4 linked regions of the Homo sapiens genome follow. The protein of the gene in region 1 interacts with the protein of each later gene in a pairwise test. Each region holds a gene or a part of one and is shown on either strand. Other genes may lie near its edges.

Region 1 (7,024 bases):
TGCCTTGGCTGTCTCTACTTTGCCGGTCACAGTCACAGCCGTAAGTGCTGCCCCCTGATAGCTCCAGGCAAGTCCTGGCCCCTGAGCCAGGCATGCCTCTTCCTGCCAGCTGGCCCTACTATGCAGCCTGTCGGGCAGGAGTCCTGGGAGCCCCTGTGGCCTTCAGAGTATAACTTTCCCTTCCTACTGGGCTTGGTGGGATCCCTTCCACGGGGCCTCTTCAGGCTGCCTAGAACCATGGTGTGAGTGAGCCCTGGCTCTGGCTGCTGGGCCTCACCTGCTGTTCCACATTTCCTCAGATGCCCACTGATGCCCAGACCGCCCCCAGGCTGTTCCACCTTGGACATGGCTCCAGGCCTCTCACGCTAGGATTCTACCAGGTGCCATGTCTGCAACCTGGCCCTGGCTCCAGAGGCCCACCCCAGCTTTGTCCCAGGGAAGGATCGCAAGGTTCCCACCATGCCATGTCTGGAGTAAGCGGAGCGAGCTGGCCTGTGGCCTGTTGTTGTTCTGACATCTACCCTGGGGGCCCTCCCTGCTGAACCTCTTCATGGACTGGGAATGGCCACATCCAAGGTAGAGGGGCCCTCCTCCCTGCACTGCCAGTCAGCAACTCATGGAGATTCCTCTCCACCTCACACCCCTGCTGTTTTTTTTTGTTTGTTTGTTTGTTTTTGAGATAGAGTCTCGCTCTGTCACCCAGGCTGGAGTGCAGTGGTGCCATCTCGGCTCACTGCAGCCTCCACCCCCTGGGTTCAAGCAATTCTTCTGCCTCAGCCTCCTGAGTAGCTGGGACTACAGGCGTGCGCCACCACGCCTGGCTAATTTTTGTATTTTTAGTAGAGACAGAGTTTCACCATGTTGGCCAGGATGGTCTGGATCTCCTGACCTCGTGATCCGCCCACCTTGGTCTCCCAAGGTGCTGGAATTACAGGCGTGAGCCACCATGCCCAGCCACACCCCTGCTTCTATCACCTTCTCTTACTCTTGCCATGGACTAACCAGGTTTTCTTTTATTCTCCAAAGATCTAGTGCAAACCACTCTCTGATAATAAAGATAGCAAACACTTACTGAACTCTGACCATGTAAAGCATGTTCTGGGCATCTTACCTGTTGGCTCCATGTCATCCTCACAAAACTCTTTGAAATATGAAATGTGGTTATCTTTGTTTTACACGTGAGTCAACTGAGCACAGAACTAAGGGAGTTGCCCAGTCATACCACAAGTGAGTGACAGAGCCAGGGGCACTGATTATAGCCCATGCTCCTTACCACTCACTTACCTGGAACCACCATTCCAGGCTTCTGGGCACTTGAGCTCCCAACTGCTTGCCCAGTTCTGGCCCTTACACTTCTAGAATCTTCTTGACATTTGTCTCCTTATCTGGTCCTAATCCCCACATCTTCTCTCCTGGTCCTGGCTGTCTTGTCTTCCGTTGCCTTTAGCCTGGTGGTGGCAAGGAGAGAGCTAACCAACGACTGCACATTTGCCTCGGGTCGTCTGCAAAGTGCATAATCCGTGTGCATGTAGTTGAGAGCTGGCTGAAAATCCAAGTCGGGACTTCCTTTAAGACCCACTTTCTGGGTCCTCTCCCACCTTTCAGGCCCATCCTGCTGTGTCAGCTCTGCTCTGTAGCCACCACTCCTGACCCCAGCCACAACTAAAAGAGGCATCTGGACCTACCTTCCCTCCCTGCCTCTGCAGCCAGGTCCCCTGGAGTCTCTCCACTCATGTTGACAGCTGGCTCCTGCTTCAGCAAATGCTGCAGGGTGTTTGATTGTCAGCTTCCCGAACCAGGCCCAGTGCTGGGGACCCCGCAGGGTCACCTTCTGAGGATGGGTTTGTGGCCTCTGAAGAGCCTCTTGACAGTCTTAGCCTCCCCTCACTCAGCCCACATCAAGCAGCTGGGTTATAAAGAAGGGGAACTTGCTATTTAGAAGGGAATCAGCGAGAGCTGTCAGCAGGACATAAATATTCATAGAGGGAGGTTAGAACTTGAGTCCCTAAAACCTTGATTTGTGTTCGACCGTTTAAGCCTCATTAAAAAGTGGCAAATGAAAGTGGGAATATTCAGTGGAACTGCAGATAAATTGGGCTTGTTCAGATAAAGGCCCCCGACTGCCAGCTCCGCAGGCTCTGCCCAGAGCATGATAGCAGATTGGCTTGGCCACTTGTGGTTTGCCAACCTCAAAATTTTAAGATTTTGCTTAGCATGAGTTCCTGGCCTTGCTCTGGGGGCAATTACCACTTGTTTGGGCACTTGGTAGCCTTCCAGAGGTGTTCAGGGATGGAATTCCGCAATCTGCTCCCTCCCCAGAATGACACGCAAACCAAGGCCTGGCTCAAGGACTGTTAAGGAGAAATCTCACCTAGGACTAAGACTTGCACTGGGCAATCTGCAAAGCGTACAATTTATGTGCATGTCTAGTTGCTTCTCCTCCTCCTAGCTTTTTCTAGCTTCTATGGACAAGAAGAACGGAGGTTTCAGGCTCCAGTTGCTACGTGAGACCTAAACCGTCTGTCCTTGCCCCTCAGTCCCACCCAAGCTCAACTCCACTCATTGTGGCTAAAAATACAAAGACTGCAGCAGGCTAGGCCTTGGTGGGCACAAAGAGGAGACAGATGGTCACTGTTCCTTCTAGGACAGGAGCTTTAGACTCGGGCCTCTGCCGGGACCAGGCAGTTCACATATATAAGTGGAATGGGCCAATCTGTGGGCTAGACCTGACCTACGGGCTGCCAGTTGGCACCATTTAGAGACCCCTAGAGTTTGGGAAGATAAAGTTTGGACACAAACAGAAGGGCAACAAAGAATATACTCAGCCTCATGAAGGAAGGACTGGTTAATTTCCCAGGAGAAGGAGGGTGGAATGCACCCCGTCCCCTGCCCCCCAACCCCCACCCCCCTGCCACAGCCAAGGGCAGCAGGGAAGCCTGGTGGAGGAGGTAGGGCATCAAGAATTAAGCTTTATTTGTGCTCTTGAGTGGAATCTGAGTCTCAGGGTACTGAGGGGCTGGGCTGTGTGCTGGGGGTGCTGCTGTAAAGGGGAGGCCACATGGTGGCCTGAGGCACTGGGCATGGGGCTGCCGCTCTTCCCTGAATCTGGCTTCCCAGTGTTCATTTCCATGCTGCACAGGTTCTAGGTAGGCCTTTGGCCTCCCCAGGGACAGCCCCATCTCCTGGCTGGGTCTGTTTCCCAGGACAGCCCTCCTTTTGGGTGCCCAGTAGCAGAGAAACGACACAATTAACCAGGCAATTAACTCAAGGCTCTGTGGTCGCTCTCTCCCACAGGGCCCTGCTTATGGGGCTGGAGGTGGCCATGGTGGGGCTGCAGGGCAGGGGGTGGATGGTGTGTCATTGCCAGGCCTCCCTCGGGAAGAAGGAAAAGTGGCTGACATGGAAGTGGCTGAGATGGGTGTTGGCCGTGGAGAGAGACAGAAGGCCCAGAGACTTGGAATGCAACTCTCCTGACACTCAGCCCCAGAATGCCTGCTACCCTCTAACCAGCCATTGTGGGAGGCAGGGATCTTACCTGCAGTCATTGATTACTAACCCTGCAGGGGCTAACTCCAGAAGCGAATGGGGCAGAGAACTGGCTGAGACTGATAAGGAGAGGGGTGCCCCACCCTGACTTCTCAGAAAGTCATTCCATTTGGGGGACCCCCATTCTTCCATTCGTGAAATGGAGGTCTTATTTGCCATGTCTCCTAGGGAAGTGGTGAGAATGAGTGAAGTCAGAGATGGGAAATGGAGCATTATGGGGCTCCGAGGTACTATTCAGTCAGCTGCTGGGAGGGTCACAGAGCCCCCTGAACCCTTCCACCCACTGACACCCAGGCTCGCCCCAGCCAGAGAGGTGGCCAGCTAAACACCTGGAGACTGAGTCAGACACAGGGAGATGGACTTTCAATGCCAAAACCCAGGTTTGGACAACCCAGTCCAGTATGTTATTAAACATTTCTCCACAACTCAAGTATTTCCCCAAGAACACTTCTCTGAAACTCTAATCAAACAAATGGAAAAAACAGATACCTTAACTATTTTGCTACCTTGATGGTAGGTAAAGTTTTTGCTTAAGAACCAAGTCAGAGAGGAAGAAAGGTGTTTTTGAGCATTTTTCTCAGTAATTTTTGATTCTCACAGAAAAATGTATATTTTTACAACTTGGACTACTAAGTTATTAAGATGAAGTATGTCAATGAGAAAAACACCTCTGTGTTGCCCCTAGATGTCTAATCACCCGGCCCCACACGTGTGGAGTGTTTGGAAGCCAGTTTCTTCACAGCATCTCCGCCACTCTAGGATACGCCCGTGGGGCAGGTGCATGCCGTGTTCAGGGTTCTGGTTGCTCCTGTTGTGCGCCCAACTGGGGCATCGTGCTGGGGAGACAACAGACCAAGGGGCTGCTCCTCTCCACCCCCAACCTGTGCTTGGCCCAGAGGGCTGGGACAGCTGTGAGACCCTGGGCAACACCCACTACTGTTTACAGTGTGGCTCAGGCCACTGTCCTGTGCAGTTCAGAGCTGAACCACGTGGAGGCAGAGGACAGCAAAACAAAGACACTCCAGGGAAGACAGGCCTGGGTGCCCTGCCCTGCCAAAACGAATGGGGGGAACACCTGTCCAAGAAGACTCCCGGAGGCCCTGCTTCCCAGTCCCAGTGTTTTGAGAGCTAGAAGCCTCGGCAGCCCACCTCTCTGTGGCCTTTGTTTCAGATCGATGGGCTAGAGGAGAAGCTGTCCCAGTGTCGGAGAGACCTGGAGGCCGTGAACTCCAGACTCCACAGCCGGGAGCTGAGCCCAGAGGCCAGGTAATGCTCCTGCCCAGCCACCCCACCCTTCCCCATCAGGCCCCCACCCCCTGTATCTATCCTGGGTCCCCCAAAGTAGGCCTGAGGCAGAGGGTTTGGGTCCCTGACATCTTAGCTTCAGTGCACACCCCCCCTGCCGCCGAACAAGACCCAAGCCCTGCCAACTGGCATGCCAGCTGCCCCTCGGGTGGGGAAAAGGAAAAGGGTTTGGTCCATGAAGCTCCTTTCCCCTCACAGGAGGTCCCTGGAGAAGGAGAAAAACAGCCTAATGAACAAAGCCTCCAACTACGGTAAGAAAGTTCCTTTCAGTTACCAGCCCCAGCCTCCAGTCCCCAGAACCAGGAAGGGTCAGAAGCCCAAGGGGCCTGACAAGGCAGCAGGGAGCAAGGGGGTTCTTTGGGAGGGAACCAGCCCCCAGAGGCTGCAGACACCCCTGCTAGGTCCAGCAGCCTGCGGGAGAGCAGGTTTGTTGCTTTGTTCTAAGGGAGGATGAGACCGCCTGTGGGTCTGTCTGCTCTTTGGGATGAAGGGATGTGGCCGTGGCCAGGTCTAGGAGACAATCATTCACCTAGACATCGGAAGTCTGCTCTCCCCACGCCCCAGCCCACCCCACCCCAACCCACCACACCCTCCCAGGAAAACCATGCAGTGGGAAGTGAGGGGTGAAGGAAGCCGAACCTCCCACTTGGGTACGGCAAGGGCTCCTGTGGGTGGAGCGATGCCGCCACCTTCTGGGCGCTGGGGGCAGAGGCAGGTAGAGGCCAGGCCCGGCGGGGCGCCAGAGGGCGGCTGGCAGGCTGGTGGGCTCCCTGCTAAAGGCTGGGGAGGACCACGGTCTATAGGTGCTCCTCAGACTTGTCGGTTCTGTTCTCCCCTGGGGGACCAGGCCTGGCCATGAATCAGCCCCAGGAAGGTTCTAATGGCAAGGAGTCCCCCAGAAGCGCTGGTCTGATGAATGCCGTAGGCACAGTGCACACCTACCAGCCCTGCCTGGAGTTCAGCATGTCTGGGCCGGTGCACCCTGGGCCCTGGACTCAGTCTGGCCTGCCCAGAGCAGCTCTGCAGGTGTCTCTTCCCACTGCCCAGCACAGACAGGGATGGGACATTAGTTTCCCTTCAAGTTTAGCGGTTTTCACACAAAACCACACCACCACTCAATTTAGCCCTCACAGAGTACCCCCTACCTGCGTGTCACCTGGAGGGGATACTTTGATACAAGTGTGGCCATAGAGCAGCAGGACTGATTTCCTCTAGAGTCAAGACCAGCTGCCTCATGGACACAAACTGCATCTTAGCGTCCCTAGATTCTGCTCAACCAGGCACCCGGCAGAGGGCAGGGACTCAGGAAACACGTGGCCCCACCTAGCACCTCCTCCACTGTCAGGCCCAAGGAGGCCCCAGGTGCCCTCAGTTTCTGGTTGGCGGATGAGATGCCTTGAAGGATGAGCACCACAGCCAACCCCATGACAGGCAAGCAGACTCACCTGGCGGTCACACCACCTCCTAGCTTGGCTTTCAGGTGTGGCATTTTTGGTGACTCCTCACCCACCTCACCCTCAACCTCAACCACATTTAAAGAGCCATAGTTGAGCAGCACTGGGCGTTGGGACTTTATCAGGCTGGCTCTATAGCCAAAAGGGTGTCAGGATTTGGGCAGATTAAGAAGGGCAGAGTCATTTTTATGGGTAAGGAGGTGGCTGGAAGGGTGCGTCTTTGCCCTCAGCAGTGTGTACCCACTCGTTGGAGAGGCAGAGCAGAACAGACGGGCCTAAACTGCCTGTCCTATCCCTATCACCCTCTTTCCTCCCAGAGAAGGAACTGAAGTTTCTTCGGCAAGAGAACCGGAAGAACATGCTGCTCTCTGTGGCCATCTTTATCCTCCTGACGCTCGTCTATGCCTACTGGACCATGTGAGCCTGGCACTTCCCCACAACCAGCACAGGCTTCCACTTGGCCCCTTGATCAGGATCAAGCAGGCACTTCAAGCCTCAATAGGACCAAGGTGCTGGGGTGTTCCCCTCCCAACCTAGTGTTCAAGCATGGCTTCCTGGCGGCCCAGGCCTTGCCTCCCTGGCCTGCTGGGGGGTTCCGGGTCTCCAGAAGGACATGGTGCTGGTCCCTCCCTTAGCCCAAGGGAGAGGCAATAAAGAACACAAAGCTGTTCCCGTCTGCTGAGTAAATGTCATGGTCTGACTAGCGGAGGGTGGACGGT
Region 2 (7,024 bases), on another chromosome or scaffold:
AATTAGCCAGGCTTGGTGGCGCCCACCTGCAATCCCAGCTACTCAGAAGGCTGAGACAGGAGAATCACTTGAACCCAGGAGGTGGAGGTTGCCGTGAGCTGAGATCGTGCCATTGCACTCCAGCCTGGGCGACAGAGGGAGACTTCGTCTCAAACAAAACAAAACAAAACAAAACAAAAAAAAGAGATACTCAAACTGTATTATCAAATAATTAATGATGTAACCTTTCCAGAAGTTGAAAGTGAGCCGCTTACTCCTAATATTATAGTCATCCCTGGGTCTTTGATTACTAGAAAGGCTGAGATACAAAGGACTCTGTAGTATTATAAGATTTACAGTATGTTATACTAGTAATAAGTAACATAAGAGGTATTATGGGTACTCTGAAATGTAGCCACAAATTTGGTGTTAGAGACCTGAGTTCAAGTGCCAGATTTGCCATTTCTAAGCTATATGGCACATTACTTTTCAGAATTTCATGAATGAAATAGGATAATAACAATAGCTACTCTAAAGGGATATAATGAAAATTAAATAAGGTTTCAATGAGCTGGGATCATGCCACTGCAGTCTAGCCTGGGTTGACAGCATGAGGCTGTTTAAAAAAAAAAAAAAAAATTAACCATAGCATTTTTCTGCTTAAAATCCTTATAGAGAATCAAGTCTCAATTTGGCAGCCCCCACTTCTGCCACTCCCAGGAAGCCTGCCATGCCGAGGATTCCTTCCATGCCGAGTACTCCTTCAGCCCTTCACAACCATCCCCGGCTACTTTTTATACAGGCTCCTCTACCAGAACTTCTCTTTATCAGCTCTGTAGTGCCTGTATCAAATGTGTTGGGCACACAGTAGGCTTCTTTACTGAAAGAAACAACAAACATTTTCTGAACCCCATTTGCTGAGTAAATACTAAGTAAAATTAAAATACATAACTTTAGATTGAGAAAGTACTATAATGAAGCTAATTTATATAAATCTTCACATCAAAATAGTTCATATTAAAGAATGTAATTATATCCATATATATCAAATTGGCTGAAGTTTTCTGAAAAAGCTTACATGCTCATGGTTTCAAGGTACTAATTAACAGAAAGACTTTCAAAACTGAAATAGGGGTCTCAGCAGCTCGGGCAGCGGGAGGAGTGCCAGTAGCCAGGCAGCCCAGCTTCGCGAAGGCTCTCAGCTCCGTGGCCCACAGGTGCCCAGCAAGTGCCCCTCCTGCCGCCAAGATGCCCAAGAGGAAGGTCAGTTCAGCCGAAGGGGTGGCGAAGCAAGAGCCCAAGAGGAGATCTGCGCACTTGTCAGCTAAACCTGCTCCTGCAAAAGTGGAAATGAAGCCAAAGAGGCATCAGGAAAGGCTAAATCTTCAGATTAAAAAAAAAAAAAAAATGCAAACAAATGGGAAAAGGGGAGCATAGGGAAAACAGGCCAAAGTGGCTAACCAAGAAACTAAATAAGATTTACCTGCAGAAAACGAAGAAACTAAAACCGAGGAGACTCCAACCTTTGATGAAGCAGGAGAGAAAGAAGCCAAGTCTGATTAATATCATATACCATGTCTTATCAGTAGTCCCTGTCTCCCTTCTTGTACAATCCAGGGTATTTTTATCAACTGCTTTGTAAGTGCAAGTCTTTTAGTAGCTCTAGAAACATTTTAAGTAGCAGGAACTCCCACCTCATTCCATTGTTAAGTTTTTTCTGAGGTGAAATAATTCTCTGGTTGTTTATTTTTTGGTGAAACCAGAGAATAGTATGGGATATTGAATTACAGGAAGTTTTGACTGTCTTGGATGTCAGCTTAACATTCCACAGATGGGGGCTTAGTTTTTATATACTGTAATACAAAATATACTAAATGGCAATACAGAGTCAGAATCCTGCATTTAATGTCTTGAACATTTTAAATTACTTCTATTGCCATGTTTTTTTTTTTTTTTCACAGAATTGTTTCCTAAAGAAAACCACTCCTTGATCATGGCTCTCCCTGTCAGAACTGTGTACACTATAACATCTTTGGTCACAGAAGTCCTGATTTCCTAATAACTGTGTTAATGTGCTGTGAAAGATTGAAAATTTGGGTATATAGTGTACATGCTATTAAACTGTGAATTGGTAGAACGTGTACAGCTTATCAAACACTTGTAGATACTGGCTCTTGATAATCCTCTTAAGAAAAATTTGCCTCCAAATGTTAAGTTGGAATGTCACTATAATAACTATTTAAAAAAGAGGCCGGGTGCAGTGGTTCACACCTATAATCACAGCACTTTGGGTGGCCAAGGTGGGAGAATTACTTGAGCCCAGGAGATTGAGACATGCCTGGTCAACATGGTGAGACCTTGTCTCTACAAATTAAAAAAAAAAATTAGCCAGGCATCGTGGCATGCACCTCCCAGTTACTTGGGAGGCTGAAGTGGGAGGATCGGTTGAGCCCGGGCAGTCAAGGCTGCAGTGAGCCGTGATCACTCCTCTGCACTCCAGCCTAGGCAATAGAGAGAGACCGTTTCAGAAAAAGGAATTACAATAGAGGTTTTCTAGATTTTTGGTATGTATGTTAAGAATTGTGTACAATTTGAAATGTCTGTATACTTATTCTCAACACGACAAATAAAATCTCCATTACAAAAGAAAAAACTGAAATAATTCTTAGTAAAAACAAAAAAAAATCAAAGGTAGAGATTAAGGGATCCAAAGGTCTGTTTTACATCACTTTAGCTATCTGCCGAAACAAGTGAAGACTTCCATACTCCAGAAGCTAATAATTAATATTGTTCAAGTCAACACAATGTATATAATAGATCTCCTAAGTGAGAATATGAGAATATCTTATCTCAGAATTCCTTTTTATATAACGGATATACAAATTAATATATCAGAAATACTGGTCAGGCACAATGGCTTATGCCTGTAATCCCAGTACTTTGGGAGGCCAAGACAGGAGGACTGTTTGAGCCCAGGAGTTTGAGACCAACCTGGGCAATATGGTGAGATCCTGTCTCTATTTAAAAAAAAAAAAAATCAGAAATATAAGCATCATGGCATTAGGGAGGATTGAACTTAGAAAACATTTAAATTCTGAATCTTTCCTGAATGACATTATCACAATCATTTGAACACCTACAAGTCTAAACTTCCTCATCTTTTAACTAAGGAAGACAATACTTTCAATATGATAATTAGATAAAAGCTATTCCTTTTTTTTTAGAGACGGAGTCTCATTCTGTCACCCAGGCTGGAGTGTGCAGTGGCGAGATCTCCACTCACTGCAACCTCTGCCTCCTGGGTGCAAGCAATTCTCCTGCCTCAGCCTCCCAAGTAGCTGGGATTACAGGAGTCTGCCACCATGCCTGGCTAATTTTTTGTATTTTTAGTAGAGACAGGGTTTCACTATGTTGGCCAGGCTCATCTCGAACTCCTGACCTCAACTGATCCATCCACCACGGCCACCCAAAGTGCAGGGATTACAGGTGCGAGCCATCATGCCTGGCCCATAAAAGCTGTTTCTAACTTCAAAAATATTATGCAAGTCAAAGAAAACATTTCGCTAAAAACACTAAAATCAAAGTTTGACACATCGGAACTCTATTATCTACAGTATTTAAAACTACATGAAGCAAATTCTAAATTTTAACATAAACATAAATTCTAAAAGTAACAAATACATATACAAAAAAAGACTTTAGAACAAGGTTTTATGATACATATGTGAGAATTTTAAAAAATCACTATACGACAAATTGATAGAAAGAAAAAAATGTATCGAAAAAACAGTGTGATTTTATTGCAGTACACTATTTTCTGACATTTCAATTCAGATCTAGAACCCCATATTACAGCAAAATCATTATCTAAATTTACTGAGTATGAATAAATAGTGAGAAGGCCAAGCTTGGGTTTATAGCCTGCTTTTAAGCCCTGATCAAGTCAAATTCTTAGTGTCCATTTTTTCATCTCTAAAATATAAGGGGGTAAAATAAGAATGTCTCTAGGTCCTTTTCTATATTAAAATTCTAAAATTCTTACTATGCATAATCAAGAAGAACTAGGGGGATAAAAAGAGATGTAAAATATTCCAGTTCAGCATACAGCACAATAGATAATCCTTGCTAATCTGTACATACAGCTTAATTGGAAAATTAAGAACTCAGCAATTTCTATAAATGGTCTAGATTTACAGTTATATTTATTTAGGCCAAGAATGATGGTATTAGGGAGCTAAGTATTCCCTCAGTGAAAAAGTTCATAGCAAAGAGGACAAAACAGACCACTAGAAACATTGTGTACTGTATCTTATTTTAGACTTGGCCACAGCAAACAATTTACTAATAAATTTGAAGTAAAGCTTTGATAGGTTGTATTTGTGATGCTGAAAAAACACAGATGGACAAGAAATCAGTTCCAATTAAAGGTTAACTCTGTGGAAGAATGGTGGGAGATGAATAGGGGGCAGGAAGTTTCAAGGATTTGTTACCTACTTATTAAAATAAAATTGAAATATGATGACTAAAGATTAATATTTATAAAACCTGGCAGGCATATGGTACTTATTATATCTTTCTTTTTGGTTAAATAACAGTAAAAACATTTTTGTTAGTTATGTATGCATAATATATAAGAAGTTATATAACATGTATATTTTCATATAAACAAAGAATTTTGTTGCCAAAATTTGTATGCAAAATTTGTTGCATGAATTTCTTCAAGACCCAGGTAAAATTACACCCCTTCTAAAATCCTCTTTCCTGATTCTCATTAAAAATCTTAAAAATCATATTTCAACTCTTGCATATTCGATCATTATATTTTACATGCACTATTTCATCACCTAGATGCTATGTTATAAATAACAGGAGCTCAAAATCTGTAGATGAGAATGTGTAAGGGTTAGAATCTGCTATAAGGCCCAGAGATTTACTGAGCATCATAGCTTCACAGACCTTGTGTCCTGTACTCAGGATGAAGGCTGCTCCCTATAAGCTAAATAGATTGCAATAGATTAACAGTTTTTAATGTTAAAAATGAAAATATAAAACTACAAGAAAAAAGTATATGTGAATGTAATCTTGTAATGCTGATGAACTTTCTAAACATTACACTGAAACAGTAATATATTTGAATTTAAAATTTTTATTTAGTCTTATTGATTGATTGATTGATTGATTGATTGAGACAGGGTTTCACTTTGTCACCCAGGCTAGGCTGCAGTGGGGCAACCTGGGCTTACTGCAGCCTCCACCTCTTGGGCTCAAGCGATCCTCCTGCCTCAGCCCCCCAAGTAGCTCGGACTACAGGCACATGCCACTACTTCTGGCTAATTTTTTAAAACATTTTTGTACGGATGGGGTCTCACTATATTGCCCAGGCTGATCTCAAACTCCTAGGCTCAAGCGATCTTCCCAAGTGCTAGGATTACAGGTGTGAGCCACCACACCCAGCCTGAATTCAAACATTTTAAATGTTTATATTTAAAAAGCACAAAAAGTTGAAAATATAACAAATGGAAAGAAAATACTTGCAATATTATACAACTGATCCTTGAACAACACACGTTTGAACTGCACAGTTCTACTTACACACAAATTTGTTTTTAATGAAAGTTACACGTGTGCCTTCCTCTCCTGCCTCCTCTGCCTCCCCAGCCTCCATTTCCACCTCTTCTGCCTCTGAAACCTTCCTGAGACAGTAAGACCAACCCCTCTTCCTCTTTCTCCTCAGCCTACTCAATGGGAAGAAGATGAGGATGGAGACTTTTATGATGATCCACTTCCACTTAATAAATAGTCAATGTATTTTTTTCTTCTTTTTAATTTTTTTTTTTTTAGACAAGAGTCTTGCTCTGTCGCCCAGGCTGGAGTGCAGTGGCATGATCTCAGCTCACTGCAACCTCTGTCTCCCAGGTTCAAGTGATTCTCCTGCCTCAGCCTCCCAAGTAGCTGGTATTGCAGGTGCCCACCACCACACCCAGCTAATTTCTGTATTTTTAGTAGAGACAGGGTTTCGCCATGTTGGCCAGGCTGGTCTTGAACTTTTGACCTCAAGTGATCTGCCCACCTCAGCCTCCCAAAGTGCTGGGACTACAGGCGTGAGCCACCGTGCTCCGCCCCTTATGACTTTCTTAACATTTCCTTTCCTCTAACTTTAAGAATACAATAAATTATACATATAACATAAAAAATATGTGGTAACTGACTATTCATGTTATCAGTAAGGCTTCTAGTCAACAGGAGGCTATTAGTAATTAAGTTTTTTGGAAGTCAAAAGTTATATGTGGATTTCTGTCTGTGCTGGCAAGGCAGGGTTCAGTGCTCCTAAACCCTGCGTTGTTCAAGTGTCAATTGTACTACAGAGAAACAGTAGCTACGACAAACACTTAAAATTTCTTTTTAAAAATTCATTAAGAAAACACACCTGCCCCAATAGAAAAAACACAACAGTAATCAATGGACAACTGCTGAGAGAAACAAAAATGCGCAAGGAAAAAAAGTTAATCTTCCTAGTAATAAAAACAAAACAAAACAAAAAAAACCCCAGAAACTCAAAGCAGAAAGCAGGTTCCCCTATAATGTGAAGGAGATGAAAAACCGATGACTCTTGATTTTCTCAGTGAAAAAGGCACTCCAACGTACTGTTGGTAGGAGTAGAAACTGTGTTTTCTCTTTTTTAATCCTTTCTGAGGAGCAATTTGGTAACATATTTTTAAAAGATAAACTTAGGAACAATAAAATTTCAAGAGTTTATTTCCACATTCATTGATTCATGAATGGAGCCGTACCAAACTGAACCAAAATTCATGAATGGGGCCATACCAAACCCCAAATAAGTGGGGTTCAGTACTCCACTAAGGGGGATGAAGCGTTAAACTTTTATAAGATCTTGACTGCTGACCTAGACTGGTGCCTTAACACTTGATCTCTGACTCCTGCCTTGTCCTTATCACACAAATCTAATCCCTGATTCCAATGTCTGGAATAATATGCTCACTAGGAAAGGATCTAAGTGAGGAGAGGTGAACAAATACAATGGGTA
Region 3 (7,024 bases), on another chromosome or scaffold:
TAGTAGAGACGGGGTTTCACCATGTTGGCCAGGCTGGTCTCAAACTCCTGACCTCAGGTGTCCTACCTGCCTTGGCCTCCTAAAATGCTGGGATTACAGGAGTGAGCCACCATGCCCGGCCAAAAAAATAAGTTTTTAAAGAATTAAAGGTCATCCTGGCTAACACAGTGAAACCCCGTCTCTACTAAAAAACACAAAAAAATTAGCCGGGCGTGGTGGCGGGCGCCTGTAGTCCCAGCTGCGCGGGAGGCTGAGGCAGGAGAATGGCGTGAACCCGGGAGGCGGAGCTTGCAGTGAGCCGAGATCGCGCCACTGCACTCCAGCCTGGGCGACAGAGCGAGACTCCGTCTCAAAAAAAAAAAAAAAAAAAAAAAAAAAAAGAATTAAAGGTGTTAATTTTATTTAGAAGCCTTACTGAAGACTACAGTCGGAGGCCTATAGCCTGAGAGCAGCCCTTTAGAGAGGTTCAGTTGAACTGTTCTGATAGTGGGGGCCATGTGCTCTATCCTGTATTGTCTTCAAAGCATCTTTCCAGAGAGCTGCACATTGTCACAGAGTCAGGGACTTTGTGAAATTATGCTGACAACCAGAAGTGAGTAAACGTGGCTTCTTACATTTGCTACGTTGTCTCACAGTACTTAATAAGTATGCAATATGTAAGTAAATACTATAGTACTATTGCAACTCCTGATTGTTTTCTTAGACAAGGAATTGGGCCCAATAAAAACCCTCTTGGTAGGCATTCAGGCTTCGTGTACCATGAGCTTTCCTAAGGGTATCCTGCCACTCTTGGGGAAGGCATGATAGATGAGGGGAGTAAGGATAATGGAACTCTGGGTACAGGGTTCCTGGGGGCTAACTTAGAGGTAGACACAGGCAATGCTAAATATTTGGGATTGATTTTATAGAGGTTGCTAGATTGTGAATTTCCTTAGTAAGGGCTAAGGCATTGATATGTAATGTCACACTTGGCTCCGAGGCTGGGTTGTTGGATCCATGTAGATGAAATCAGGGAGAGAAAGGGCAGAACGGAGTAATTTAGAAATGTATTGATTTGTATTACTCTCTGTTGGCTTGCTATTCAAGGCAGTGGAGAACTCAATCACATAATAATCTGCAGCAAACCACAGATCATCCCAGGGAATGAAGTTTTAACATTCGCTGGCTCCCTAACTCCTCACCCAGCCTTTACATTCACTGGCTGTTCAGTCCATGCCTGGACATCTTAATTTGAATACAACATTTTAAATCCATTTTTCTGTCATCATCTTGCACTAACAGACAATTCTACACTAAGCCTATGTTTATGAATATTTCTCAAGAGTACATGTACACAGCCTTCAGTATAAGGAAAACTGGAAGTATGACATACCTCCAGTTGTCATACTCCTTGGGCCCCTCTTAAATTCTCATTAAACTGCAGGATAGGCAAGTCAGAGGTGAATCTCAAATACGAAATTCTTACCGGAAAGGGGTTCCAATCCAGACCCCAAGAGAGGGTTCTTAGATTTCTCGCAAGAAATAATTCGGGGCAAGGCCACAGTGCAAAGCAAAAGCAAGTTTATTAGGAAAGTAAAGGAGTAGAGAACAGCTACTCCATGGAGAAGAATGGCTTGAGCTGCTCCACCAAGGGTATTTAGAGTTACTTCTTGATTATATGCTAAACAAGGGGTGGATTATTCATGAGTTTTCCGGGAAAAGGGTGAGCAATTCCCAGAACTGAGATTTCCTCCCCTTTTTAGGCCATATAGGGTAACTTCCTGCCATTGCCATGGTATTTGTAAACTGTCATAGTGCTGGTGGAAGTGTCTCTTAGCTTGCTAATGTATTATAGTTAGCTTATAATGAGCAGTGAGGACAACCAGAGGTCACTTTCATCACCATCTTGGTTTTGGTGGGTTTTGGCCGGCTTCTTTACTGCACCCTATTTTATCAACAAGGTCTTTATGACCTGAATCTTGTGCCAACCTCCTATCTCATCCTGTGACAAAGAATGCCTTAACTTCCTGGGAATGCAGCCCAGTAGGTGTCAGCCTTATTTTACCCAGACCCTATTCAAGATGGAGTTGCTCTGATTTAAACGCCTCTGACAAAATGACGACCTCAAAACAATCCAGCTTTATGGAATACCTCCACAAGAAAGAAAGTATACTTAGCTATAGAATTTTCTCCTTGCATCCAACAGGCTTTGAGATGTCAGATGTTTCCTTCCTGTCCCATGATTAATCCTAGCCATTCCTCTTTCTTGTCTGGCTCCACTACTCCTTACCATCTAATGCCTCGCCACCATTTTGATATTTTGACTAAGTGAGCTATGAAACACACCTACTGGATATGAAAGTATAAGTTTCTGATAACAAAACATCAACATGGGATGTGGAGGAAGTGGGTAGGGTGGCATTAATGCAGCAAATCCTGGAATATTTTAAATCTTCATTCTAAATTTAGTAAAAATATAGGATAATTTTCCTGCCATCATTTACTTATAAAATTAAAATTTTAGAAAATAAAAATAATATTTTCCTCTTTTTAATCACAGATTATGGCCTGTATTGGAGACAGATGAAGTCGTAAGAAGTCTGATAGATGGAATACTTACCAATAAGAAAATGATTTTTGTTCCATCGTATATCAATATCTTTCTGAGACTACAGAAGTAAGTACAGCACAGAACACCCAAATACTAAAACACCAATAGAGCTTTTTTTTTTGCTTTTTTTTTTTTTAGACAGAGTCTCACTCTGTCACCCTGGCTGGATTGCGGTGGTTGCAGTGGCATGATCTTGGCTCACTGCAACCTCCGCCTCCTGGGTTCAAGCAATTCTCATGCCTCAGACCCCCAAGTAACTGGGATTATAGGTGTGTGCTGCCACACTACACCCAGCTAATTTTTGTATTTTTTGATAGAGACAGGTTTCCCCATGTTGGCCAGGCTGGACTCGAACTCCTGACCTCAAGTTATCCTCCTGTCTCGGCCTCCCAAAGTGCTGGGATTACAGTCATGAGCCACCATGCCTGGCCCAATAGAGCTATTATTATGGAGCATCTTTCAGTTGTGAAAATTGGCATGGAAACTCTCCATCCCTGGGGAGAACAGTTATTTCCTCTGTTATTTTCCTACCCAGTCTATAAAAAGAGAGTGATTCATTTTCTCTACCAAATCTACTGTCTCTGCCCAAACTTTGCTGAAGACTATTCTAACTAAAGGAAACACAGTTTAAAAAGAATGCAATATAGTGAAGTAGTTAATAATAAAGACTCCATTTTTAAAAGTCTGCTGGAAGTTTGGTTGGGATTGCACTGAATCTATAGAGCAATTGGGGAGTATTGACATATCAACAATATTGAGTTTTCTAATCCAAGAACATAATATCTATTTTTAAAATCTTCTTCAAAATCTTTAAATCTTTAAATTGTATTTTGTAGTTTTTGGTGTTTAAGTCTTGCACATATTTTGTCAGATTTATTCCAAAGTATTTCACGGGTTCTTTTTTTTTTTTTTTTTTTTTTTTTTGAGACAGAGTTTCACCCTTGTTGCCCAGGCTGGAGTGCAGTGGCGTGATCTTGGCTCACTGCAGCTTCTGCCTCCTGGCTTCAAGTGATTCTCCTGCCTCAGCCTCCCAAGTAGCTGGGATTACAGGCACCTGCCCCCTCGCCCAACTAACTTTTTGTGTTTGTAGTAGAGACAGGGTTTCACCATGTTGGCCAGGCTGGTCTCGAACTCCTGACCTCATGTGATCCACCTGCCTCAGCCTCCCAAAGTGCTGGGATTACAGGCATGAGCCATCATGCCCAGCCCTATTTGACGGTTTTTGACGCTAATGCAAGTGGCATTTTAAAAAATTTTATATTTCCCATTGTTTGTTGTCAGTATATATTGGATTTTTGTAATTTGATCTCATATTTTGCAGTCTTGCTAAATTGCTAAACCTCTTTTTGCTAAACTCGATAAGCTTTTTTTTTTTTGGTAGATTCCTGGGCCTCTAATTTTCTTTATGGGAAAGTTTTTAATTACAAATTTAATTTCTTTAATAGCTACATGGCTATTCAATTTACTTATTAATTCTTGGTAATGTGTGTCTTTCAAGGAATTTGTCCATTTCATCTAAGTTGTAGAATTTCTTTGGCATAAATTTGTACATAACATTCCCTTATTATCCTTTTAATGTCTTTAGAATGTCTTATTTATTTATTTATTTATTTTTATTATATTTTTTTGAGACAGAGTCTCGCTCTGTTGCCCAGGCTGGAGTGCAGTGGCACAATCTTGGCTCACTGCAAGCTCCGCCTTCTGGGTTCATGCCATTCTCCTGCCTCAGCCTCCCTAGTTGCTGGGACTACAGGCGCCTGCAACCATGCCCAGCTTATTTTTTTTTTTTTTTTTTTTTTTTTTTTTTTTTTTTTTTTTTTTTTAGTAGAGACGGGGTTTCACCCTGTTAGCCAGGATGGTCTCGATCTCCTGACCTGGTGATCCGCCCGCCTCAGCCTCCCAAAGTGCTGGGATTACAGGCGTGAGCCACCAAGCCCAGCCTATTTATTTATTTAGTAGAGACAGTCTCACTTTGCTGCCCAGGCAACAAAGGTTTTGAATGCCTGGCCTCAAGCAGTCCTCCTGCCTTGGCCTCCCAAAGTGCTGGGATTACAGGCATGAGCCACTGCACCTGGCCAAATGAATATGCTGATAATATCTTCTTTATAAGGATGACATAAGAATAAAATAATGTAATACAAACAAAGCCCCTGTCACTGAAAATGTATAGACTTCAAATGTTAAAGTCTTAGAGAACAGAATTTATATGAAATAGCAACAGCAACAATTTCCCAGAGGAAATACTCTCTCAGCTTTCTTCTGAGGAGCAGTTTCTAAATTGAAATTGTATCAGTGAGAAGATAACTATACTAACTTCATAAGCCTTGGGCCTTTTTGAAACAAATCCATATAAACTATGAACAAACTTGAAATAGAACAATTTGAGAACAGGGTACAAACTGCATTGGTGTATCAATTTCAGTATTTGGTTTTAGCTTAAATAGACTGACTTGAGATAACATAAGGAGAACCTTGACCCCCAAGCAACATCATCTCGCGAGTTGACTAGGCCGGGTGTGGTGTCTCACGCCTGTAATTCCAGCACTTTGGGAGGCCACAGCAGGCAGATCACTTGAGGTCAGGCATTCGAGACCAGCCTGGCCAACATGGTGAAACCTCAGCTCTACTAAAGATACGAAAATTAGCAGGCATAGTGGCCTGCACCTGTAATACCAGGCACTCGCAGGAGAATCCCTTGAACCCGGAAGGCGGAGATTGCAGTAAACCATGATTGTGCCACTGCACTCCAGCCTGGGCAACAGGAGACTCTGTCTCGGAAAAATAAATTTTTTAAAAAAATGAAAAAAAATAAAAGTTGACTAAATTAGTGTCTTGGTACTAAGCACTGTAGGAAGTGAGTTTCATGGAACCCCAACTCTCTTGGGGCCCAAAGCAAGTCATATTAATATTGAAAATTACATGCATATACATGCATATGACCAAGGTGATAAAAACAATTATTCTGCCTGAGTTGGAGAATAGTATCCCAGTAAAATAAACAAGAGTCTCAAAGTCTTTTGTATCCTTTGAAGCTGTCATGGTGGTTTGTAACTAGGCAACAGGTATATATTGTTAATCTTCTTTGCATTTAATTCCTTTTATAGAGAGACACAATTTTACGAGCAGATGCAATTACTAGCATGAAGGTTTCTTTGTGAGGGTAGTTAAAAGGCCCACATGAGCTCTCTTCTTATCCTTGTCCTTCTTTCAGCCAGATCTTCCCTGCCCCTTTGCTCATTCCATCTTTCACCCACCTACCCCCAAAACAAGGAAGTAAATCTTGCATTAGTCAACAATACCAAAGTGATTTTCAATATGACTTTCTCTGCAGAATGTTATTATTTCTGCCTCTTTACATTCACATACTGTCTTCCTTTTTTTTTTTTTTTTTTTTTTTTTTTTTAGATTGGGTCTCACTCTGTTGCCCAGGCTGGAGTGCAGTGGCTTGATCTCAGCTCACTGTAACCTCCACCTCCTGAGTTCAAGCAATTCTCCTGCCTCAGCCTCCTGAGTAGCTGGGATTACAGGCATGTGCCACCACACCTGGCTAGTTTTTTTGTATTTTTAGTAGAGACAGGGTTTCACCATGTTGGTCAAGCTGGTCTCGAACTCCTGACCTCATGATCTGACCACCTGTGCCTCTCAAAGTGCTGGGATTACAGGCGTGAGCCACCGGGCCAGCCACTCTCTTCCTTTCAGTTGCCTACTCATCTCTTATGCATTCCTGGACATCAGTTGTCCTTTTGAAGCTTTCCTCCACTATCCCAGCCCATGTGAATCCTCCTTCCAGTTATAGCCCTTAATTCTAGATGGCTGATATTTTTCAATAATTGTTTTAAGATGACCATTTTAGCCTATCAGCTAAACAATATCAAAGACAATAGCTATTTTTCAAGTACTTTAGTTTACCTTATTATAGAGTGCATAATAGATATTCAGTAAATAGTAAAGGAGAGGTGAAGGCTTGCATAGAATGGATTCTGGTGGTGTCTCTTGGTGAGCTTTTAGCATCAAGATTAATCAGCAGTTTCAGCAATGAGCTCAGACCTTCAGTTTTAGATCTTTACTCATATCAGATAAGAGAGTGAGAAGAGTGGTATGTATCAGTGCTTTATTTATATTTGCATCCAATTTGAACTATGAATATTACAAAGGTGCACACATAGGTTCAGACAGATTGATTTAAAATGACCAAAGATGACCTGTCGTAAGCAACCTGGGTATCTTAAGATGCACTCCTTGGAGAGGGAATGTTCCTAAAAACATTTTCAGAGGGACGAACTGTATGAAATTCAGTAAAACATAAATCATGAGGAAAACTGATTACTCTCTTTTTGACATGAAATGAGAGTTTTAATGCATGGTTACGATTATTAACGTACTCCGCTGCAAGACGTTAATAAAGTTACTGTTTTGCAGGCTAGAATGTCTTGA
Region 4 (7,700 bases), on another chromosome or scaffold:
CATCATCTGAAAATGGAAAAAATAATACCTGACTAGAAAGTGAAAGTAAAAAAGAGATATAATGGACAATGTGCCTCGCACAGGGCCTGGCATGGAGAAGTCCTTGATGTACGTCTTTTCCTTCCCTTTTATGCAGCCGTTTCCCTCACACCCACCCATTGATTGATTTTTCTGAAGAGACTACTTTTGTCATGTCACCCTCTAATCCCCAGACTTTAAACTGGGAGGTAGCAGAGTGGTCTGATTAAGACCTTAGACAAGGGTTTCTTGTCTGGGCGCAGTGGCTCACGCCTGTAATCCCAGCATTTTGGGAGGCCAAGGTGGGCAGATCACTTGAGGTCAGGAGTTCGTGACCAGCCTGGCCAACGTGGTGAAACCCCATCTCCACTAAAAATACAAAAATTAGCCAGATGTGGTAGCAGGCTCCTGTAATCCCAGCTACTCGGGAAGCTGAGGTGGAAGAATAGCTTGAACCCAGGAGGCGGACCTCAGCACTTCTGCCTGGGTGATGGGAGTAAATCCTGTCTAAAAACAAACAAACAAAAAAAAAAAACTTAGACAATGGTTTCTCAGCTTTTTTTAATCACTCCCCAACAAGTCCTTTTAGATATTATATTCTTTTGTGTGTGGCGGGGTACATAGCGTGTGTATATGTTTGTAGGTTACATGAAATGCTTTGATACAGGCATGTAACGTGTGATAATCACATCAGAGGAAATGGGGTATGCATCACCTCAAGCATTTATCCTTTGTGTTACACACAATCCAATCATACTCTTTTAGTTATTTGTAAAGGTAAATTAAATTTTTTTTACTATAGTGCCCCTGTTGTGCTTGTAAATACTAGGTCTTATTTATTCTAAGTATTTTTTGTGCCTATTAACCACATTATATATATATATATATATATATATATATATATATATATATATATAATTTTTTTTTTTTTTTGAGATGGAGTCTCGCTCTTTCGCCCAGGCTGGAGTGCAGTGGCGCTATCTCGGCTCACTGCAACCTCCACCTTCCGGTTTCAAGCGATTCTCCTGCCTCAGCCTCCCAAGTAGTTGGGATTACAGGCACCCGCCACCACGCCTGGCTAATTTTTATATTTTTAGTAGAGACAGGGTTTCACCATTTTGGCCAGGCTGGTCTTGAACCCCTGATCTCGTGATCCACCCACGTTGGCCTCCCAAAGTGCTGGAATTACAGGCGTGAGCCACCATGCCTGGCCCACATTACATTCTTACTCACCTCCCCCTACCATGGAATTTTATTCCACAGATATGCTATTGGTTTAGCTACTATATGTATATCTGTGTTTTATACATAAAGCACAAGAACCTTCCAGAACCAATTTTCGCCACCTTGGAAGTAATACCACCTCTACTAAGAATGCACAGCATAGACCATAAAACCTCAATGCTAAGTTCAAATATTGGCCCTACCACACATGAGCTGTGTGGTCTTGTACAAGTTACATAACTTCTCCTCCTTGTCTCAAACTCCTCACATATAAGATGAGGATAATAATAGTACCTGCGGCCACACACAGTGGCTTAAACGTGTAATCCCAGCACTTTGGGAGGCTGCGGCAGAAGGATCACTCAAACTCAGGAGTTCAAGAGCAGCCTGGGTACATGGCGAAACTCTGTCTCTACAAAAAATACAAAAATTAGCTGGGTGTGGTGATGTGTGCCTGTAGTTCCAGCTACTTGGGAGGCTGAGGTGAGAGGATCGTTCGAGCCCAGGAGATCAAGGATGCAGTGAGCTATGATCATGTGGCTGCACTCCAGCCTGGATAACAGAGCCAGACCCTGTCTGAAAGAAACAAAAACAAAAACATTAGCACCTGCATCATAGGGTCACTGGGGGCACTACATGAGTTCATGTACATCGAGGACTTAGGACATTGCCTCAGGCAGACCTAGTGCTGCACAACTGCTTATGTAATTATTCCCAAATTTCTCCAGGGCCCACAGAAGAACATGGAAGTATCTTGGTTTGGCAATTAAGGTGAATCACATTCTCACTCTCCTTTTCTGCATCTCTACCCCACATTCCCACAAAGCTTTATTCACACCAAGTCTCCAGTCCTTGCCTGCATTGTGTGATGGGTGCCTGCAGTGATGGGTGGGGACACCCATCACTGTCCAGGGTGTCCCCACCATCCTCACAGCCTCTCTGTCTGGCCTCCTGCCTTTGAGCCAGCCCACCACACTCTCATTTCTCTGCCCAGCAGAAACCAAACTGTCCTCTGCATTTACTGTCTCAACTGGAAGAGAAATGCAGAATGACAAAGAACTTGTGAACAAGGGTCAGCTCCAACAGAGAGTGAAGCCAAAGGGGCTGGGCAGAAAGAGAGATGAAGACGGGGATCTAAGGAATAAGGCTGTACCAGAGTGAGAGTACGGGGGAGGGGTTGAACAAGAGTTCAGGGAGGAGAGAATTCCCAGCGCTGAGCCAGAGACTCCTTTACAGAGGCCCAAGGAGGCGTGGAGGGAGGGGGAAGGCTGCCAAGGCTCTTTCTGTCTCCATGAGTGTGTCAAGAATGCAAAGCACTAATGCTCTTCACTTGGTCCATCTTGCAGGGTTGAGTTTGCAGTGAGCAACCTTGAAGGATGAGCTGACATCTCGCTCAGGGCCAAATAACCGACTTGCTTACTGCTTGCTATAAAATGGCACGTTACCCAAGGTCAGAGTTCCCTTCCTATAACCTCCCCATCCCTCACACATTCACAGGTATCTATCCAAGCCATGGCATCACTCTGTGGGGCTTGGGGGCAAGGCAACTGACACTGGACGCTGGTTCTCATGCTTGCCAAGCATGAAGCCCTGTGCTGCTAGCAGCTGTGGAACATAGCCGTTAGCTTTAAAAGAGGGTAAAATCACGTCCTGGACAGGACAGCCAGGTGAGTTGGGAAGGGAAGAGAGCCTGCCACGGGCACAGGCATGTTGGGGGAAGTGGAAGTGGTGAGAGCACAGTAGGAAGTGAGAAGGGGCGGGCCGTGCTTACCAGGCCGTGGACTTAAACCAGGATGAGAGAACCCCTGGAGGCGTTTAAGTTGGCAGACTTGGATTTCAGGAAGAGCTCTCTGGCTTCTGGGTGGAGAATGGCCAGTGGGGTAAGTGGTGAGAGGAAAGACAGAGAACGGAGAAGGTTAGATGGGCTTGGGAAATTATCCAGGCCCTGGATGGAGGTAGAGATGTGTGCTCATGAACACGGAGGGGATTACTGATGTGGGGTGGATGAGACTGTCGTCAAGAGTGTGGGACAGGAAGAGAGGGAGAGTCTTGGCCAGATCCAAGAAAGGAGCCCTCAGAAGAGGAGGGGAGTCAGAGGCAAGGAAGGGGCTGAGGCAGCCAGCCCAGCTGAGTGGACCCCAGGAGAGGTATCAAGGGGTGGTGTGGGGTGGGGAGGGGCCAGTGTCAGAAAGTGGATGGGGAGCGGCCTGACTCTGCTTTTGTCCTGTGGCCTTCTGGCCAAAGGCAGGGAAAGGTGGCCAAACACTGAGACCAAGAACAAAGAAAGAAAACTGCTGGTGGACTTCTTCCACCATGAGCAGGCCACCAAGCCCGCAGCACTGCACTGCAGCCCCCAGCTCTGTCCTGGGGTTGGGGGAGGTGAGGAGGGGCAAGGTGGGGAGCACACAGAGCACCCGCTGTCCTCGGAACACCACAGCGACTAGAGGTAAGGGAGCACCGGATGTGGCTGGGATGTGGGCAGCAAGGGGCCAGAGGGGCCTTGAAGGGGTCACAGACCATTTAATGAAGGTGTATTGAAGGCCACCATGGGCCAGGCCCTAGTTAGGGATGGATCAGAATTATATAGCATATGCCAGGGGTCAGGCAGGTAATGAAGTGATCGGAAGGTGATGAGGCAGTGGCAGTTGAGATTCACGTTGCAGTCGCCCCAAGCTGGCCAGGCCAGGGAGCAGAAGCATGGCTGGATGCCGGAGCCCACCAGGCTCCCCACTGCAGGGCAAGAGTGGCAGGGGGAGAGACTGTGAAAGGAGCATAGGCCAGGTCCTGGGTGAAAGCTGTGTCCTCAGCCTTGACTGATGGGTATAGGGAGCCACTAAATGCCTTGGGGCAGAGAGGTGAGGAAAAAAATATTTACCGAGCATCTACAAGGTGCAAGGTACTCACTAGATGCCTTCAGTACCAAAGCTTCTCAAACTTAGTATGCATATCACTCTTCTAAGAATTTCATTAAAATGCAGATTCTAATTCAGCAGATATAGGGCAGGGCTTGAGGTGCTGTCTTTAATAAGCTCCCAGTGCCTGGGACTGCACTTTGAGGAGAAGAGCTGTGTGTGCCCCAGTGTGGTCCAGTGAGTACTCTGGGCTCCCTCTCGTGGGCAGGGAAGCTGAGGGCCCCATGAGCTCTCCCAGCTTCCTGAAGGCTCCCCATTAATGAGAGCTGACTGTGCTGTGCTTTGCTGACTGCAGGGCCTGCTCCCTGCCCCCCACCTCCAGGTTGGGGTAAGTGGCACCTCTCTCCCTCCAGCTCCGCAGTCTTCCCTGAGGTTTAGATCTTCCAGGTTTATAAAGTCAGGCCCTCCTGTTGGCAGCTGGCCTCCACCCTGGAGTATCTGAGCTTGCCTGTGGCAGCATCTAAAGATAGTCTCCCTTACAGGAAACAAGATACTATTGGCTAACTCTGCAAATAAAATGCTCTTAGAGGGAAGGAAAGGGAAATACTCGTCTCTGGTAAAGTCTGAGCAGGACAGGGTGGCTGACTGGCAGATCCAGAGGTTCCCTTGGCAGTCCACGCCAGGTAGGTGCACAGGACTAGTTGGGTACCTGTGGGTGGGGTGGAGCAGTGGACAGCTAATAGGTTAATAATGCCTGTTTGCTTACGTGCAGACAATGGAAACCATTTTCCTGGGGATGTTGTAGCCTAAATATGTCCAAGGGGATGGAAGAGTGGGAGGCAAGGGGTGATCAGATCATTTATAATACACTCAACCTGGTGGAATAGTATTAGAAGCATTAGTAATTACATTTTAGAGACATGGAGAAAAGCTCATGATTTTAAACTAACTGAAAAAAGCATGAAAAATTGCATCTGGATGCTGTTGAGGAATTATTGCTAATTTTTTGAGATGAGAAATTGTATTAAAGTCTTTTTCAAAAAAGAGTCCTTAACTTTTAGAGATGCACACAAGTGTTTATGGGTGAAATTAAATAATTCAGTAGAGACATTAAGTGGGAAATAGAGGAAATATTGACCATGGGTTGCTAATAGTTGAAGCCAGGTGTTGGGTATAAGGAGGTTCTCGCTGCTTTTATTTGAAAAGTTGCTTTTTATTTGAAAATTTAATAATAAAGAGTTTTTAAATTTGTATCTGTATTTTAATATAAATATAAATGCACTTAATATAAATATAAAATATGTATAACATTTAGATAGAGAAAAGCTAAAAGATTACTGTGGTTGATTCTAGGAAACTGCATTGCAGATAGTTTCATGGGTTTTTTTTTCCTTTTTCTTCCACTTTTTGTACCATCTATGGGTTTTTGTTTGTTTTTTGTTTTTTGGGTTTTCTTTCTTGTTTGTGTTTTGTTTTTTGAGACGGAGTTTTGCTCTTGTTGCCTAAGCTGGAGTGCAATGGCACAGTCTCGGCTCACTGCAACCTCTGCCTCCTGGGTTCAAGTGATTCTCCTGCCTCAGCCTCCCAAGTAGCTGGGATTATAGGCATGTACCACCGCCCGGCTAATTTTGTATTTTTAGTAGAGGCGGGGTTTCTCCATTAATAAATTCCTGGCACAAATTTAGTGTTCAATTTTGATATATGTTGTTATAACCATTGTGAGGATACTCAGGCTCAGGTTTGTGTGGGTGGAAAACATGGTCTTCAGAAAGAAATTATGAGTGCAAGACAGGAGGAAATCCATCAGAGGCCCCAGCTGAGGACTGACCACGGCTTGTTATTTCTCTTGCCTTGCCTCTGGCAATCACAGCCTCACAGAGCCTGCAATCCTTGCTTTGTGAGTTTATAGCTCAGTCCAGAGAATGGCTAAGAAAGTTTAGGATTCTTTCAACACCCACTCCACAAAAAAAAAAAAAAAAAAGAAAAGAAAAAAAAATTAATTTTTGAAATACTTGAGGTAGAAAACTTGAGGCAGAAAAAAATTGAGCCAAAAAAAAAGGAAAATTGAACCACGTGAAAGCAGGCAAGAAAGCTTGCATTGCTCAGGGCATCCCAGGCCCAGAGGGCGCTTTGGAGGGAGCTGGGTTTCCTGAGAGGAGGCAGGGTGGGTGACGGACCTGTGCTGGAGAGCCTTGAGGACCACTGTGGGTTGGGAATGGGGGCAGTGGATTGGGGTTCAAAACCCCTGGGAATGAGAAATGGGCTCAGGAAGGCTAGGGTGGATTCTTTCATCTTCCTCTTTGCTTGGCTTTATTTTCACAAAGGAAGGCAGGGCAGGAAATAGTCTCAGCCCAACTTCAGTGTGGTTCTTCTTAGTGCTCAGGCTTACCTGGCACTTGCCACACCTCTGGGATGGGAGCACCTACTATCCATCAGCCACGTGCCAGTCTCCACAAAGTCTGCTCCTGAACCCTGCTCCTCAGCTGGCCCCACTTCACAGATGGGGACATAGGCAGCTTGGCTTTGGAATGAAGGAATGAAGTCAGGAATGAAGTCCTGGCTCTGCACTTGGTGACTGTGCACTGGGCTTGCTAAGTCTGTTTCCTGCTTTTAAAATGGAGATTGTCCATCAGCCTTTGAAGCCATGTAATGGGTATGTGTCAACTTTCTGCAAGGATTAAAGGCATGGTATAGGAAGTCCCAAACACACTGCCTGACCCATCTTTGATGCTCAAGAAACGATATATGTTGTTGTCATGAGGAAACTGAGCCTCAGAAAGTTTGGATACCTGAAAAACACTGACTACTATTGAATGAGGTTGTGAAGAATCCAGAGCTGTAGGGGCAGGAAAGCAAAGAACGTATTAGAGCTGACCCAGTCAGGACGATCGTCTATCCCCTTCCTCACCCCACCCCATCCCAGGAGGAAGCCTGCCCGGCCCTAGGCAGCTATGGCACAGTGGCAATGTCAGGTATGGTTCTCCCTAGCCAGAGACCCTAGCCTCAAAAAACCTCCTTCTTGGGATCCAGGCATCCAACTGCTCCTCCCCAGCCCCAGCCTCTGACCCAGTATCCTGAGTCCAGAGACGTTTGGAACCAGCACCTGTAATGGAGGAGCTGAACAAGGAGGGGAACTTCTGCTGCTCCACAGCAGGTCACGGTCATAGGAGGGAGTGGAACCAGAATGGCAGAATCCAGATCTTGGCTGCCTTTCCCAAGGACTTGTTCTGATTCCTAGCAGCACAGCCCAGGCATTCCGAGAAGTTGGGCTCTCTGGCATCACTCACTCTGCCCAGAAGAGCCAGGGGAAAGTTGGGGCTTCTAGCTGAACCTTGATCCCACCTGCCCTCTTGAGGGGCTCAGAATCTGCTGGCTGCTTCACAGGTGGGATTCTCACGGCACGCTGGCCACAGCTGATGCTTCGACCCCCTCATCTTGTTTGGCCAAAGTGCAGCTTTTTAGCTTGTGAGTAAGGAAGAAAAGCTGTATCATATGTCTTTAAACATCTTCCTAGACCACCTTTGTTTTCCCCTTAAAGTGTGCTTAAGGAGAAAATGGAAAGTCTCTTTTCAGTGTGTTGTATTTTGTTTATTGCAAAATACAACA

The links.
Region 2: the proteins of CCDC167 (region 1) and ARL13B interact in binary tests that used the Homo sapiens proteins (3 or more experiments, as listed by UniProt).
Region 3: the proteins of CCDC167 (region 1) and HSD17B13 interact in binary tests that used the Homo sapiens proteins (3 or more experiments, as listed by UniProt).
Region 4: the proteins of CCDC167 (region 1) and CX3CR1 interact in binary tests that used the Homo sapiens proteins (3 or more experiments, as listed by UniProt).

The regions. Positions count from the first base shown.
Region 1 is NC_000006.12:37,482,888-37,489,911, reverse strand, and holds the end of CCDC167 (coiled-coil domain-containing protein 167), read left to right. Parts: intron 1-4,717; coding exon 4,718-4,812; intron 4,813-5,049; coding exon 5,050-5,102; intron 5,103-6,622; coding exon 6,623-6,726; 3' UTR 6,727-6,974; downstream 6,975-7,024.
Region 2 is NC_000003.12:93,983,150-93,990,173, reverse strand, and holds part of ARL13B (ADP-ribosylation factor-like protein 13B), read right to left. Parts: intron 2,229-7,024; exon of another isoform or gene 1,112-2,228; intron 1-1,111. UniProt on the Homo sapiens protein: Cilium-specific protein required to control the microtubule-based, ciliary axoneme structure. May act by maintaining the association between IFT subcomplexes A and B. Binds GTP but is not able to hydrolyze fit; the GTPase activity remains unclear.
Region 3 is NC_000004.12:87,305,875-87,312,898, reverse strand, and holds part of HSD17B13 (17-beta-hydroxysteroid dehydrogenase 13 isoform A precursor), read left to right. Parts: intron 1-2,539; coding exon 2,540-2,656; intron 2,657-7,024. UniProt on the Homo sapiens protein: Plays a pivotal role in hepatic lipid metabolism. In vitro, it catalyzes the oxidation of a variety of lipid substrates, including 17beta-estradiol, retinol, retinal, and leukotriene B4.
Region 4 is NC_000003.12:39,277,031-39,284,730, reverse strand, and holds the start of CX3CR1 (CX3C chemokine receptor 1), read left to right. Parts: upstream 1-4,694; 5' UTR 4,695-4,777; intron 4,778-7,700. UniProt on the Homo sapiens protein: Receptor for the C-X3-C chemokine fractalkine (CX3CL1) present on many early leukocyte cells; CX3CR1-CX3CL1 signaling exerts distinct functions in different tissue compartments, such as immune response, inflammation, cell adhesion and chemotaxis.